2 separate regions of the Homo sapiens genome follow, and region 2 is linked to region 1. A link means that fine-mapping ties the variant in region 1 to the expression of a gene that starts in the linked region. Tissue or cell type: blood mononuclear cells. Region 1 holds a variant in brackets; the other region holds the start of a gene. All regions are shown on one strand. Distances are between the middles of the regions.

Region 1 (8,104 bases):
CAGGCAATCCACCTGCCTCGGCCTCCCAAAGTGCTAGGATTGCAGGCATTAGCCACCATGCCTGGCCAAAAAAATTTTTTAATGAAAAAAAAAATGCTCATTCACACTTAGAAAAAGGCCAACATTTATTGAACACTTAACTATTGCCAGGTGCTGTTTCAAGTGCTTAACATATATTAACTTAATTCTCAAAACAGCCGCATGTAATCGGTACTATCATTACCCCCATTTTACAGGTAAAGAAGCATGTACAAAGAGGTTAAGTTCTTGTCCAAGGTTGCTAGCTGTTGGCAGAGCTAGAATTTGGTCCCTAGCAGACTGGCTCCAAAGAGTGAAAAAATATAAATCGTTAATGGTGGTTGTATCTTAGGAGGTAGAATTAAATGGGAATTTTGTTGTTGTTGTTGTTGTTATTTATTTATGTAAGATTTGCCTTTTTAAAGACAATAAATGTTACCTTTTGGGCATACACAAAAAATAAAAAGAACAAAGAAGTAAAAATGCTATCCTGTTCACTGGCTGGACATAGAATAATTTCAGTTAAGAGTAGTGTGGCACCAGGCTGATGGCTCATACCTGTAATCCCAGCACTTCAGGAGGCCAAGATGGGAGGATCACTTGAGCCCAGGAGTTCAAGACCAGCCCTGTCAACATAGCAATACCCCATCTCTTCAAAACATAAAATAACCGGGCATGGTGGCATGCAAGGAGGCTGAAGCAGAAGGATTGCTTGAGCCTGAGAGGTTGAGGCTGCAGTGAGCGATGGTTGTGCCACTGCACTCCAGCTTGGCTGACAAAGACCCTGTTACACACACACACACACAAAAAAAAGAAAAGAAAAGAAAGAAAGAAAGGAAAGGAAAAGGAAAAGAAAAAGAGTATTGTGGATCTATCATCGCATTCCCTTTTGCCAGACTTATTTTCTGTGAAGAGAATGTCTCCAGAAGTGTCTTTGGGGATTCAAATAAGTCTGGGAATTGGGGGCTCTTCGAGTTTGAAAATTTATTGACTGCTATAAGTTTCAGAGAAAAAAAAGTAACTCAACCACATGGCTGAATTTCCACAGTTGGTTGGAGGCACAGCCTTTGCTGTTCCTCTTGGATTCAGCCAGGGCCTCTAGCAGAGGGGAGGTGGCTACGCACAAGAGTGCTTCTTATAACAGTCAAGACTGTGAACAGAGCCTATCACAGATACTTCTGTCCCACTAAAAGGACACTTGAAGGTAAGCCCAAGGTGGCTTCAAGACCTTGAATAATTTTATGTTGCTAAGACAATAACCAAAGATAAGGCAAAGCAAGCCAAGCCAGCACTGGACCTCATTCCTCTGACTTTAACATGCATCTGACTCCCAGACTCTCAGATGCTGTGAGACTAGCTTTTGGTTTTTTTTTAATTATGTCACCTGATAAAAGTAAAACATGGGGGCTGGGCACAGTGGCTCACACCTATAATCCCAGCACTTTGGGAGGCTGAGGCAAGAGGATCCCTAGGAGCCAGGAATTCAAAACCAGCCTTACACAGGAAGACCCCATCTCTCTCTCTCTCTTTTTTTTCTTTTTTCGGTGAGACGGAGTCTTGCTCTGTCGCCCAGGCTGGAGTGCAGTGGTGCGATCTTGGCTCACTGCAACTTCCGCCTCCTGGGTTCAAATGACTCTCCTGCCTCAGCTTCCCAAGTAGCTGGGATTACAGGCGCCCGCCACCACGCCCAGCCAATTTTTATATTTTTAGTAGAGACGGGGTTTCACCACATTGGCCAGGCTGGTCTCGAACTCCTGACCTTATGATCCACACACATCGGCCTCCCAAAGTGCTGGGATTACAGGCGTGAGCCACCGCGCCCGGCCGGGAAGACACCATCTCTTAAGAAAAGAAAAGAAAGAAAGAAAAAAGGAAAACATGATTACAGAATATAAAGCTCAGTAATAACATCACTACCCTGAGATAACCTGTTTTGATATTTTAGTACATTTCCTTCTAGTCTTTTTTAAAAAGTTCATATATATAATATGTTAAATAAATATATACATATCTATTTCAAAATTTGGACCACACTATACATGTAGTTTTGTATCTTTTTTCCCACTTAATGTTATATTCTAAACATTTTCTCTGACAAAAGATTCTTTAAAAAATAATTTTTAGTGGCAACATAATACCTTGGCATATGGATGTAACCATCTTTAATGTTTTTTTTTTGAGACGGAGTCTCGCTCTTGTGCCCCAGGCTGGAGTGCAATGGTGTGATCTCGGCTCACTGCAACCTCCACCTCCCGGGTTCAAGTGATTCTCCTGCCTCAGCCTCCTGAGTAGCTGGGACTACAGGCGCCTGCCACCATGCCTGGCTAATTTTTGTATTTTTAGTAGAGACGGGGTTTCACCATGTTGGCCAGGCTAGTCTCGAATTCCTGACCTCAGGTAATCCACCCGCCTCGGCTTCCCAAAGTGCTGGGATTACAAGCGGGAGCCACCGCACCCGGCCGTGACCATCTTTATTTGAATAGCTCAGGGTCTCTTTTCCAGATCTAGAGACAGCAGAACAAATTCAAGAAGGGTTCATTTCTGCCTTTCCTATTAACTGCAGGAGAGAGACTGCAGGGCACCACTAGGGGTCAGTGCAGAGCCATCATCACAGGAGCCTTTACTGTGCCTTACAGTAAGCATGTCTTGATGTAAGATAATTGGTTATGCAACAATCCATATTAATAAAGATTCTATATGCTACATTAGAGATCTATTCACATGACTAGCCATGTTCCCTTTAAGAGCAGACTCCCTTAGTACAGATTTCTCAGATTATAAATAAGATTCCTCCAAATTAATTTCCAAAACAGAGCTATTTTATAAACACCAAGGTCTATCAGTGTAAGACCTGTTCTTTCCTGCTTGGTATGAGATCATTTGTGCATAAAATACTTGGCCAAAGTGTTTTATAGGTTTGTTGGGAAAATCAAATAAATAACATGTAAACGTATCTTACAAATTATGAAGCCACATATAAACGTAAATTTGCTCTTTTTTAATGATAAGCAATTCAGATATTTGGGCAAGTGGCATGACCATGGATTATTTCACTGGTTTTCTTCCTCGTAGCCCTTGCTCTCCAGCTATTGACATCAGTGTGGAGTCAGTAATTCTTTTCTTAGAAGCTGAAGTTATCATTTACAGTAAATTTGGTTTTAGTTCTTTGTCATCCTTATTTACCTGAAGCTCCTTCAGGAAAATTACTCTGAGCTCAGAATTAGCTTAGATAACTTATAAATAGGTGTATAACAGGGATCAGAAAGCCACTCTAGGCCTGACATGCTTGACAGGCTCTGACGCAGGAGGTGGGAGTTCCTGGCCCTTCTAAACACAGATGTGACTATTAGGAGCAAAAGGTACCAAGGGCCCTATTTCCCACTGGCGAGGCTTCTTATTCAGCCCTCACTCTTCTTTCTGTTCACGTTTCCTCTTCAGTTCTCAGTGCCACATCATTTGGCATCAGAGATGAAAAGGATCTAGGGCTGGTTGTTCTCAGAACCAAGAAGCTTTCAAAACCAGCTTGTGGTAGCCCTTCTTGAGAGCAGCTCAGTCTTCTCATTGGTTCACTCTGACCAATCCCAGGATGCATAGGGACCCAGGCAAAGCAGGCCCTAGTAAGTCCCTTTTTTTTTTTTTGAAAGACAGAGGCTGGGCGCCATGGCTCATGCCTGTAATCCCAGCACTTTGGGAGGCCAAGATGGACGGATCACCTAAGGTCAGGAGTTCGAGACCAGCCTGGCCAACATGGCCAAACCTGGTCTCTACTAAAGATACAAAAATTAGCCGGGGTGGCACGGTGCAGGGCGGTATGGGGACGCCATGGCAGAGCTGCAGCAGCTGTGGGTGCAGGAGGTGGTGGACTCCATGGTGAAGAGTCTGGAGAGAGAGAACATCTGGAAGATGCAGGGTCTCATGTTCCGGTGCAGCACCAGCTGTTGTGAGGACAGCCAGGCCTCCATGCAGTAGGTGCACCAGTACATCAAAGCACTGCCATGTGCCTCTGGCTCAAGCCCGGGCTTTGCTCACCAGTGAGTTGGAGAAGTTCCGGCACCACCTGGCCCGGTGCGCCATGCATTGCAACAACAAAGCCAAAGATTCAATGGATACTGGGAGTAAGGAGCTTCAGGTGAAGCAGCAGCTGGACGGTTGTGTGACCAAGTGTGTGGATGACCACACGCACCTCATCCCAACTATGGCCAAGAAGATGAAGGAGGCTCTCTTATCCATTGGGAAATAACAGTCTTTGCCAGTGGCCACTGGGGCTGAGGGCAAGAATATATTTTTTATAAGGAATTGGGAATTTTAGTCTTTTAAGCAAAGTTTATGAAGAAATGAAGGATGGCCACAAGTGTAAGACATATGTCACTTGCCTCTGGACACTGGTTCTTTTATGTTTCAGTCCTAAAAAATGAAATGGAAAAAAGTGGTGCTAAATTGGGTCAGAGATATTACAGGAGAGTTTTAGAGCTTATATATCCTATGGCCAGTGCTTGTCCTGCCAGTAAGGATCTCCCCTGTAACAAGCCAGAGCCCTCCAAGGCACTAAACTCTTCTTATTACACAGGTACCAACAGGCTGGCAGGTTAGAGTTGGTGGAGTTTGAGGAGAGATATTTTCTCTTTGTTGCCAACATCCTGTTTACCAGAAGTGTCACCACACC[A/T]TTTTCCGTAAGCTGTGAAACAAAATCCATGAGGTCACCCGCTTAGAAGGGCAAAAAAGTTTTCTGGGTCTTTGTTTTCTTGGTTTTGTGTAATTTATACAAGGCGATACAAATTGATTTTAAGATGTGGAATTGGGAGGGAGACTAGTTTGGATAAGAACTTTGAAAGTTTCCTTGAGGATCCCCATTTCTGGTCATCAAGATGTAGATGTAGATTTCTTAAAATTATTACATGCTGCATCTTTCAGCCTGGAGACCATGCAAAAACATGAGAGGTGATGACATACTAATTATGGGAAGCATAATTACTGGCTGATGGGCCGAGGCTGTGTGTAGCAAAATGACAGGACAATCTTGCAGTAACACTTTCCCGGTGAAGAGAAGGGGGTTTTGATTGTGATATATACTAGTATCTAGAAATGAACAGTAAAAGAAGAGCAGTTGGCTACTTGATTATAACAGAGTTATGAAGTACTGGATTTGGAAAAACCTGGTTTTTATAGAACGGATGGAATGAAAGCCTAAACCTAGCACTGCCTACTTAGCCCCCTGAATTAACAAAGCACAATTGAGACAAACCCTGGCAACAGGAAATCCAAGGAAGAAAAAGTAAGCAACTTGGGCTAGGATGAGCTGACTCCCTTATAGCAAAGGAGAGGCAGACCCCAGTACCAAAAACCATTTTTGCCTGGGGCTTTCGCAACTTGCAGTGTTCCTGCCCCGGCATGGCACGTTATTGTTTTGATAGCAACCTCATTGTATTTTCATCAACTTACTACTTGAAATGATAATATAGCCTGTCCATTTGCTGCTTCCAGGCTGTGTTATATTTTCCCGGTGGTTTGCTTTTAAAAATAAATAAAGTTTAATTTTCTCCCCTCCCCCTCCACAAAAAAATTAGCCGGGCATGGTGGTGCCTGCTTGTAATCCCAGCTACTTGGGAGGCTGAAGGAGGAGAATCACTTGAACCTGGGAGGTGGAGGTTGCAGTGAGCCAAGATCATGCTACTGCACTCCAGCCTGGGCCACAGAGCAAGACTCTGTCTCAAAAAAAAAAGAGACAGACTCAGCCGGGCGTGGTGGCTCATGCCTGTAATCCCAGCACTTTGGGAGGCCGAGTGTGCAGACCACTTGAGCTCAGGAGCTCGACACCAACCTGGACAACATAGTGAAACCCCATCTCTACAAAAATATATATAAATTAGCTGGGCGTGGTGGCATGCACCTGTAGTTCTAGCTACTTGGGAGGCTGAGGTGGAAGGACTGCTTGAGTCCAGGAGGTCAAGGCTGCAATGAGCTGAGATTGTGCCACTGCTCTCCAGCCTGGGCAACAGAGTGAGACTCTGCCTCAAAAAAAAAAAAAAAAAAAAAAAAAAGAAGAGTTCTCACTCTGTCACCCAAGCTGGAATGCAATGGTGCAATCATAGCTCACTGTAGCCTTAGACTCCTGGGCTCAAGTGATCCTCCCGCCTCAGCCTCTCGAGTAGATGGGATTATAGGTGTGAGCCACTGCCAAGTCCCTTATCACTGGCACTTGATTTCCTACTGGGCTAGAACCTTAAGCTGTTTGGTGAAAGAAGGGCACAGAAGTCACACAAAGAGAGCAACAGATGCTTGCACAGCAGCTCACACTGCCCTGGGACAGCTCCAGTAAAGAGCAGTCCTGTGTTCAGGTCCTACCTTCTAGAGCAGGATCTAACACAGGACACCAGTTGAATAGCTTATGCTCTAGATAAGTACAGTTCTTGGTATATAGCTAGTGTTCCAGAAATATTAGTTGCATGAATGAATGACAGGTTTAGGCTGTAAGACCAGCATCAGACCATGGAGTGCCTGGATACAACTACATTTCTATGGCCAATTAAAAAAATAATCCTGGGATTGGAGTAGTAGAGCTAAGCCTAGGGACTTGAAAGTTAGTCCAGAGGATCCCAACAGCTGGACACAAACTCAGGAAGACTCAAGAGCCATACAACAGCAATGCAGCAACCAATAATCACCGTTATTATTAAGAGCAGTTTCTAGTACAGAGCGCCTCAGGGCACTTACAATCCCCACAGAGGCCAGCTACCCAACATCAGAGTCTGACCAGCTGGGTGGTCCTGCCCTGCATCCGAGAGGGTGTCGGGACACTCATCCAGATGGCTCTGAGACAGCAGCAGAGCTGACAAGGAGGCCCCACAAGTGAGATTCCTTTGGCTTCAAGGTCGCAAGTCCTGTCCTTGGGCCTCCTGGCCTGCTGAGCCTCCCACCGGCTTTACCCTCAGAGATTGCTGCAGAAGCCTGTGTGCTGGAATGGGCTGCCACATTTCTAGGAAGGAACCCGGGGGCACATGTAGCCTGGTTATTCAATGTTATCATAGACGTGAATCACATCCTCGTGGTTGCTGAGAGCCTGAATGAGATGTGCGGCCTGTTCCAGGTCGGGCTCAGCCAGCTGCACCTTTGAGTTGGGGATGAACTCTAGTGCACAGGACACAGAACACAGGCCCAGGGAGTCCAGCTTCTTCCTCACTTGGTGCAGTGAAGAGGCATCACAAATAAACTAGGGATAAAGGAAAGTCAGGAGGTGAGGAGCCAGGAGGTAATGAGACAAAGCCACACAGGACCTTGCAAAGTCCTGAATGTCAGTACTGGAATGGATCACTGGGTTTGAGCTCTTCACTGGCAGGGACATCGTTTTCAATGTTTTGACTCTTTCTTTCTCATAGTCCTCACTAGAGTCGGTCCTATTCAGTATTCACTTAATAAATGTTTGTACAATATGTGAACTGTCTCACCTATACCCTGGGGCACATGAAGGAAGAAACCAAGAGGCATGCATAAGGCATCTATCAGGGTCCTCCCGGAAGCCCACCAAACACCCATGTTTTCATGCTTACTTTAAAAACGTTCCTTTCTTCTTCATCTTCAGTTTCCTTGACATCCTCAGCTCCTGCTTCGATTGCCATCTCCAGGGCACGCTCTAGGTTCACAGCCTTCTTCTCTCTGTCCTCCACTTCAACCACAATCACCCCCTTTTTGTCAAAAGAGTGACGAGCTCCTACAGCCATCACTCCTCTGACAGGGAAGGAAACAGGCTGGCATGAGTGGATGCCTCTAGAAGCTCAGCCTCCATAAAGCTCATCATTCTATCACTGTCTCTTTCTTACCCAGTCTATGAAGTACACACAGACATGGAGCAGATCGCATCCTCAAGGAGAAAATGCAGCTGCTGCTGGGTAAGGGAACAGCCCAAGAATGTCCCCACGCTCGATTTTCTGCCCTGATTGCAGTTGGGAGGAAGCAGACTTAGCTGATAATTTCCTGTGCCATTAAGATGCCAGTCCTGGTGGAGCATTTTAAGACTTAGGCATTATATGGCTACAGATGGGGATAATAGGACAAAGATCCCCTTCTACATCCGATGAACAAGTCTTTGGGA
Region 2 (8,104 bases), 160 kb after region 1:
AAACCCCGTCTCTACTAAAAATACAAAATTAGCCAGGCGTGGTGGTGCATTCCTGTAATCCCAGCTACTTGGGAGGCTGAGGCAGGAGGATCACTTGAACCACGGAGGCGGCGGTTGCAGTGAGCTGTCATTGCACTCCAGCCTGGACAAGGAGAGCGAAACTCCGTCTTAAAAAAAAAAAAAAGGTGGCTTAACTGTCCTCTCTGTCATGGCCTCTCCCTCCCTCTTGCCCCAGTGGTATTTGGCTCTTTTGTCTGTCTTGTTTTTCCCAGACTGACCAGCCTTGGGGTTAACCAGGGGCAGGGTGACAACTCACAGGCAATGACGTCCCTCAGCCTCCTTCCCCCCACACTCCAGAGGCTGCAGGTGACTCAGGGTCTTCGTCGGTGGCTCCGGAAGCCTTGCAGGTGCCCTGCCACATGGCCGCTGTGCTGCTGGCTGCTCTGACGGGTCCTGCCGGGGCTACTGCTTTCCTGTCCCCTCCCCCGAAGCTGGGAGATGGATTTCCTCCCTGAGTGATTAATTGGTCTATTTTAAGCTCATCAAAGTAGCCTCGTACTTTCAAGTTCCTCAGGGAGCAGGCCCGGAAGATGATACCTGCGGACTTAAGGCTGCTCCACTGCAGGATATGGGGTCGGGGGCTGTGTCTGTCAATTGTGAGGTCCCTCAGGGCAGGCCCCCTCCTGAGCTGGACAGGGCTTGGCTCCTGAGTGCTGATTCTGCAGGCTGTGGCTCAGTTCTGCACTATTACTCTGGCTCCGGCAAATCCTCATGAAAATAAGCCTGGGAGCCCCGAGGGTTGCAGGTTAGCCCCCTACAGCCTTCCCTTGCATCATCCTTGCTCCTCTAACCAGGGACACTCCTGCCTCCTCCCTGACTATCTCTGCCGGGTTAACACCTGAGCATCTTCTGGCTCGATAATTCTGTCATGACCCAATACGCCTTCCCTGACCCTCACATCTGGGTTGAGGGCCTTCCTATGCCCTGTACCTAATCCTGGTTTTCCCTCTGTAAGGTGGTCAGAGATGGGCTTGGGCAGAGTAGTTTCAAAGGCTCTCCCCAAATCTCTGTGCAGCTCCCCTGACTGAAGGCCTGTGAGAACAGGGTGGTGCCTGTCTTGTTCACTGTTCCCCAATACCTCACCTAGTGCCTGGCACAGAGAAGGTACAAAAATAAAACTTTCCCAAGAATGAATGGTGTGCATTTGAATCTTATAGTGTCTGAGGACTGGGGAACCATCTCTTATCCCTTTGTATCCTCTGCTGCCCAAGGTCAGGGCCTCTGCCTGAAGTCCCTACTGAATGAGGGTTAACTGGTTCAGAGATGAGGGAGGAAGCCATTGCTGGGAGGGGCTAGAACTGGGCCCCTGCCCTTCCCACACCCGAGCAAGAGCAGTAGGATTGTCAGATGAAACACAGGACATCTGCTCACATGTGAGGAATACATCTTTTTTTTAAGACAGATTCTCTCTCTGTCACCCCAGGCTGGAGTGCAGTGGCATGATCTTGGCTCATTTCAACCTCTACCTCTTGGGTTCATGCCATTCTCCTGTCGTAGCCTCCCCAGTAGCTGGGATTACAGGCATCCACCACCATGCCTGGCTAATTGTTGTGTTTTTAGTAGAGACAGGGTTTTGCCTCATTGGCAGGCTGGTCTTGGACTCCTGACCTCAAGTGATCCGCTCACCTCAGCCTCCCAAAGTGCTGGGATTACAGGCATGAGCCATGGCACCCAGCTGGAATACATCTTTAGTATACTGCATGTAATATTTGGGACATGCTCATGCTGAAAAAACTAACTGAATTTGAATTTTTTTTTGGTTTTCTTTTTTTGAGATGGAGTCTCACTCCATTGCCCAGGCTGGAGTGCAGTGGCACAATCTTGGCTCACTGCAACCTCCGCCTCCTGGGTTCAAGCAATTCTCCTGTCTCAGCCTCCCAAGTAGCTGGGATTACAGGTGCCTGCCACCTTGCCCAGCTAATTTTTGTATTTTTAGTAGAGACGGGGTTTCACCTTGTTGGTCAGGCTGGTCTCGAACTCTTGACCTCAGGTGATCCACCCACCTCGGCATCCCAAAGTGCTGGGATTACAGGTGTGAGCCACCGCACCCGGCCTGAATTTGAATTTAACTGGGAAGCCTTTTTTTATTTTTTCCTCTTCTTTCTGAATCTGGTAACCCTAGCAAGGGAGAAGTGACTAGCCAGGTGCCAGGTGGGTCTACGGCCTGAGTCTCCAGCTCTCTATTCACATTCTGCCTGCTTCCTTGATGCTTCCTCCTCCTTAAATGCTTTCTGTCAGAGACCAGGGGGCACTCTAGGCCTGGCTGCCCAGCACGCGGAATCCAGGAGCACTCCTACCTCCTAATCCCTGCCCCAGCTGCCCTCTGGATGGTCAGGGAAGGCCTGAGGAGGTGATGTTTGAGCTGAGATTTGAGAGAATGTGACCAGAGATGATCCAGGAAAGAACATTCCATGGAGAGGTGGGAGTGAACTTGGTGCATCTGAAAACAGAAAGGCTAGCGTGGTTCTGCGATGTGGGAAGGGAGTGGAAACATGGAAACACAGTCAGCATTTCCTTTTTTTTTTTTTTTTTTTTTTGAGACGGAGTTTTGCTCTTGTTGTCCAGGCTGGAGTGTAATGGCGCGGTCTTGGCTCACCACAACCTCTGCCTCCTGGGTTCAAGTGATTCTCTTGCCTCAGCCTCCGGAGTAGCTGGGATTACAGGCATGTGCCACCCCGCCCGGCTAATTTTGTATTTTTAGTAGAGATGGGGTTTCTCCACGTTGGTCAGGCTGGTCTCTAGCTCCCGATCTCAGGTGATCCGCCCGCCTCGGCCTCCCAAAGTGCTGGGATTACAGGCGTTAGCACAACTCAGGAGGCCCTGGAACTCATCTTGTGCCACTCAAGAAAGGGCAGGAGGGGTCCTCTCCTTTCCCACCTTTCCCAAGCTGAAGGACTGCACACTTCTCAGGCTTCCAAGGCAGGAGCTTCGGCAGCAGGAACAGGGTTGCAAGGTAGTTAGTCTGGGTGTCTGTCGTCCTGGGTTGGGACATCTGGGAGCTGGGGCAAGGCCTCTGGGCCCTAGTGCCAGAGAGCAGTTTGGTGGCGTTGCCTGTTCTTTAAAATGGGTTAGGTGTAGCCATGAGCCCCCCCATGCAGCGGGTGTGCAGGCCTCTCCCTCAGTCAGAACACCCTCACCCACCCCTCCCCACTTGAAGCAGGCCCTTGAGAACACTGCTGGCAGGGAGGCGGCTGCTCTTCCTCCTAAGGGAAAAGCCTGCAGCCCCGTGCTGCTGGGCCGTGGGGTGAGGGGGAAGCCAAAGGGCCCCTATCACCCCTCAGCAGGAGTCTCTCCTGGCTTTGGAAGGGGCTGAAGGCCCGGGGCTCTCACGAGGGAACTCAGCCCTGCTCAGCCGGTCAGGACTCCTCCTCCACGTCTAAATCCACAGACCAAACAAAGGACATGGCTCAGTTCCACCTTCAATCCACAGGGATTCTGCCTGTTAGCACGCTAAGGAAACTGTTTCTTACTTTAAATTATCCATTAATTTCCTCCAACTGAAAGATACTCTACAAATTTTCTGTTGTTGGAGGGTTTAAGCTTGGTCCCTCTGAGGGGGTGGGCCCTGCTGTGTCGGCCCCTTGTGTCTGCTCGTGGAAGGTGTGCCATGTGCCACCGTGTGCCATATGCAGCTGACACGCCTGTGCGTCTCGCCTGGCGCTGGAGACTGCTCTCTGTGTACTAAGCGAGTACTGGATCCCCAGGGCCTATCTTGCCCACTGCCTGTGGCAATACACAGGCAATACACAAAGCGCATTCAAGTAAGCAGGTCTCCCTGCCCCCCGGCCTCCCAGAACCTCGGTGCCTGGAGGGCAGGTGGGGGAGGGCGTTCCTGAATGGAGGCCGGTTTCCCTCTGCGGGGAGGAAACCCCATTTCCCTCCTACCCCTAGGCGCTTGCTACATCTGGCCCGGCATCAGACAGGAAAGAACCCTTTCTTCCCAGCTTGTAGGAAGTCTGAGCTGGGCCCCTTATCTACCCACAGCACTTCCTGGACCGGGGGCCTGGACCGGGCTCCGAAGGGGCTGGCTCCCGGTCTTGGTCTTGGCCTCGGCGCCCTCGTTTCTCTGCGCTTTGGGCAGGGGAAGCTGCGGACGGCAAGCTCTCGGCTTTCGTGAGAGCCTGGTGGAATCGGTGTTCCCCGAAGGCTACTCTGCGGGGGCGGGGGCTAGTCCGGGCCTTCCCGGCAGTATCGTCTCCCCCGTGGGGGCTGGGGAGGTGCCCCCAGGGCTCCCGGAGCGGCGGCGTGGCCAAGGCCCGAACCGGGTCTGACATCTAGTGGCCTCCTGGGCCCGGGCAGGGCGAGGGCGGGGCAGGGAAGAAGGTGGAGGGCAGAATGGGAGGCGTGGAGCGAGAAAATCAGGAAGCGCGGGACCAAGCCGGGGAAGGGCGGCGGGTCTCGCCCCTGGCACCCGCTCTCCTCGGGGCCCGTCCCATCCCCCAGGCCTGGCCGACCCCAGGTCCTTCCGTGCGCAGTCGGGGCTCGCAAGGACGAATCCCGCGGCCCTCGAGGCAGGCCCGGGGGAGCTCCCGGCCCTCCACCCCCGCAGGCCGCAGATCCCACGCACCCCCGATCATGGGGGCCCCGGAGGGAGGTCGCGAGGCCGGGCTCACGGTGGCCGCGGTTCGCCCACGTGCGGGCCCGGAGCTGGCAGGGCCCGGTCCCGAGCGTGGCCGCAACCGCGGGGACCTGGCACGTGCGGGGCAGCCCCGGGGGCCGCGTACGCCACTTCCGGTCCCGGAGACACCGCCCAGCCCGCCGCCCGGTTGCCATGGCGACGCCGTCGCGCCACGGCCCGCAGAACCGGCCAAGCGACCCGGGCGCGGCGCGGGGAGGCTGAAGGGACGCTCGGGTAGGCAAGGTAGGAGGCCGGGCTGGGGGTGGGAGCGGAGCGCGCAGGGGTGCGGGGCGGGGGCGGCCCAGGTGAGCCCTGACTGCGCAGGGAGGGACAGCGCGGGGCTCCCGAGTAGCAGCCGGCCTCGCACCTGCCCCTTGCGGCCGCGCACTGGACTGCGGCGCCGACCCGCACCCTGGGCCCGAGGGCTGCAGGGCTCGCCCGCCCTCTCGGAGCCGAGCCTCTCCCGGTCCAGGCGGCCCCTGCCCTGGCCTGCCCGGGTGCCGGGTCTCTGCTGAAGTTAGAACCGAGACCCCCGCTTGCTGGTGACCCCGAGTTTGGATCTTTGCTCCTGCGCCGCGTTCTAGAGCAAGGTAGGGTGCAAATGGACCAACCAGCCTTTGCCACGGCTGCCCTCTTGAAATCTGAAACCGGAGCCACCGCCTCTTGCCCCGAGCAGGGCCCGGGCTGCAACGTGGAGCCGCAGGTCCCCGCCTGTGTCTCCCGACGCCCCCAGCTTCTGAGCGCGAGGGTGGGAGTTTCCCGAGTGGGAAAGCCCCATGGCTTCGGTGGCCTCGGTGGCCCTGTGGTGGGTCAGGCCGGTGCCAACTGCGCTGAGGGCGGAGCTGCCGCCACCTTGACACCTGGGAGATGGCAGGGCCACCCTCCCTCCCTCCCTCCCTGCCCTGTCCCCGACTGTATCACGGAGCGAGGATCATCCGTGTGGATCTGGGGTCCCCTTCCCAGACTTCTCCTTTCTGGTCGTCCTCCTCTCATTCATTCCACCTTGGCAGCCTTTGTGGATTTTCTGACTCCGTAAATGAAGTTACATCTAGGGCGCCTAGATTCTGCCCCTTTGGTTTAATAGCTAATGAAAAAAAAAAAAAAAAAGCTTTGCCACCTCCTCTAGGTGCCTGGATTTCTCCCGGTGAAATTTGATGGAGGCAGGAAAATACGAGGCGGTGGCAGCCCCACCTCCTTGCATGAGGGAGCCTCCTAGAGCTGGAGGTGGAACCACCCTGCTTGTCCCACTCCTTTTCTTTCTTGCTTTATTGCTTTCTTGCTTTCCTTACTTTCCTTCCTTCTTTTTTTTTTGAGATGGAGTCTTGCTCTGTTGCCAGGAGGCTGGAGTGCAGAGGGCAATATCAGCTCACTGCAACCTCCATCTTCCGGGTTCAAGCGATTCTCCTGTTCCAGCCTCCCTAGTAGCTGGGATTACAGGTGTGTGCCACAACACGCAGCTAATTTTTGCATTTTTAGGAGAGACGGGGTTTCACCATGTTGGCCAGGCTGGTCTCGAACTCCTAACCTCAAGTGATCTGCCCGCCTTGGCATCCCAAAGTGCTAGGATTACAGACGTGAGCCACCGTGCCCAGCCTTGTCCTACTACTTTTCTGCCCTCACCACTTTTCCTTGGCAGGCAGAGCTTGGGCTCCTGCTAATACTGGGATGGTTCAGTGGCATTAGATGGCATTGGTGGAGGGGAATGAGAAATTAACCCCCTCTGAAAGCGTAGCTTCACTGGGAAAAAGCACTCTACTGTCTGAACAATTCATAAATGAATTTTGGGAATATACAATGTCACAGATTAAAAGCAGACCATCCTGTGTTCTTCCAGCCCCAGGAGCTTCTGCTTGGTGTGCAGGGGCTAATGGTGGACAGCAATGGAGTGTAGATTTATTAGAGACGGCTGCCATCTGGCTCTCTGTGGCCCCAAACCTCATGTGTCAGCAGTGTGACTCTTTCTAAGGTGCTCTTAGGACCAGATTTCGTTTTTGTAAGATTGGTCTTTGATGGAATGCCTACTTTGTGGCAGGCACTGTGCTGGGCGCTGGCACACCTTTATCCACTTACTCCTTCTGTGTTCAATAAGGTAGCTCCAGATATCCTCCACTTTATAGATTAGGAAGCAGGCTTGGAGAAGGGACTTGGCTTGTCCAGGAGCTGATGGTTATAAATAATGAGTCTGTTTTGAAATCACATCTCTCTAACCTGGGCTGCGCTGGGCCTTTCATGGGCCGTTGGCCCTCTGGCCTTCACGGGCCCCGTCTTCCATAAAAAAAATAATAACAATTGGCCCGGCGCAGTGGTGAAAGCGCGTCTCTACAAAAGATACAAAAAATTAGCCAGGCATCGTGGAGCACGCCTGTAATCCCAGACTCGGGGAGTCTGAGGCAGGAGAATTGCTTGGACCCGGAAGGCAGAGGTTGCGGTGACCCGAGATCTTGCCATTGCACTCCAGCCTCAAAAAAAAAAAAATTAATAAAAATTATATTTTACAACTGCATTGGTATAAATACAAGTATAGTCCAGACTGGATTACAATTAATTTTAAAAACAAAACATTTTAGGGCTGGCTCATGTCTGTCTGTAATCCCAGAGCTTTGGGAGGCTGGGGCAGGAGGACTGCTTGAGACCAGGAGTTTGAGACTAGCCTGCACAACATAGTGAGACCCTATCTCTCCAAAAAAAGAAAAAATTAACTGGGCATTTCAGCATAGCTGTAGTTCCAGCTACTTGAGAGGCTGAGGTGGGAGGATCCCTCGAGCCCAGGAGTTCGAGGCTGCTGTGAGCTATGATCATGCCATCGTATTCCAGCCTGGGTGACAGAGGTAGACACTGTTAACAACAACAACAAAAAAATTAATTAAAATAAGTTTTAAAAAATTGCAACATTTTCCTCAACCCTAAATGTTCATTTTTTTCTTCTGATTTTCATGGAAATGGAAACATTTTGGTTTGTAAGCATTGGGAGCCCTCTGTCTTGTGGGAGAAAGGAGCTCAGTGTTTGACTTCAGGCTCTGCTGCTTCCTGGGTACCTAGTTCCTTGGTACCTGGTCCAAGCAGCCTGGATACCCCGGGTCCCTGGGCTGCCTGGGCCAGGACAGCCGCCCTAGGATAAATGGAAATGCAGCCCCTGCGGCTTGTTCACCCTCCTGTAATGCCTTCTCTCTTACCCTTTGGTCAGGGCCTGGTGTCTCTGCATGCACCAGGGCTTAGTGCCATGCTGGTACAAGCGTGGGGAGGATGCAGGAGGACTGGCATGGGATGGGGAGCACTGCCTGGGAAGCCCCTTCTTCCTGGGGCTACTGGGGTGCTAAGAAAGTACCCTAATAGCTCACACCACACTTTGCTTTCTCCTTCATCACATGCTAGGACGCTCTAGGGCAATTGAGCTGTTTTCCCCTTCACCCATCAAGAAGAGATATC

Evidence for each region. PIP is the estimated chance that this variant, and not a neighbour inherited with it, causes the effect.
Region 2: CYB561 starts here. The variant in region 1 is fine-mapped to the expression of CYB561 in blood mononuclear cells (TOPMed, PIP 0.91).

Annotation. Positions count from the first base shown.
Region 1 is chr17:63,606,923-63,615,026 of GRCh38, reverse strand. It overlaps TACO1 (translational activator of cytochrome c oxidase I), which reads right to left. Exons shown (of 5, transcript NM_016360.4): 4 at 7,563-7,740; 5 at 6,662-7,225. The coding sequence ends at 7,025. It also overlaps the pseudogene FAM136DP. Among named protein-coding and RNA genes, the nearest start is that of TACO1, 10 kb to the right of the region's middle. RefSeq lists enhancers at 3,420-3,920, 3,921-4,421. The variant A/T (reference allele first, on the strand shown) is at 4,682.
Region 2 is chr17:63,443,062-63,451,165 of GRCh38, reverse strand. CYB561 (cytochrome b561) reads left to right here and starts at 4,860. Exons shown (of 6, transcript NM_001915.4): 1 at 4,860-4,921. RefSeq lists enhancers at 1-480, 2,648-3,460, 3,964-4,103, 3,461-4,274 and silencers at 4,244-4,433, 4,604-5,163.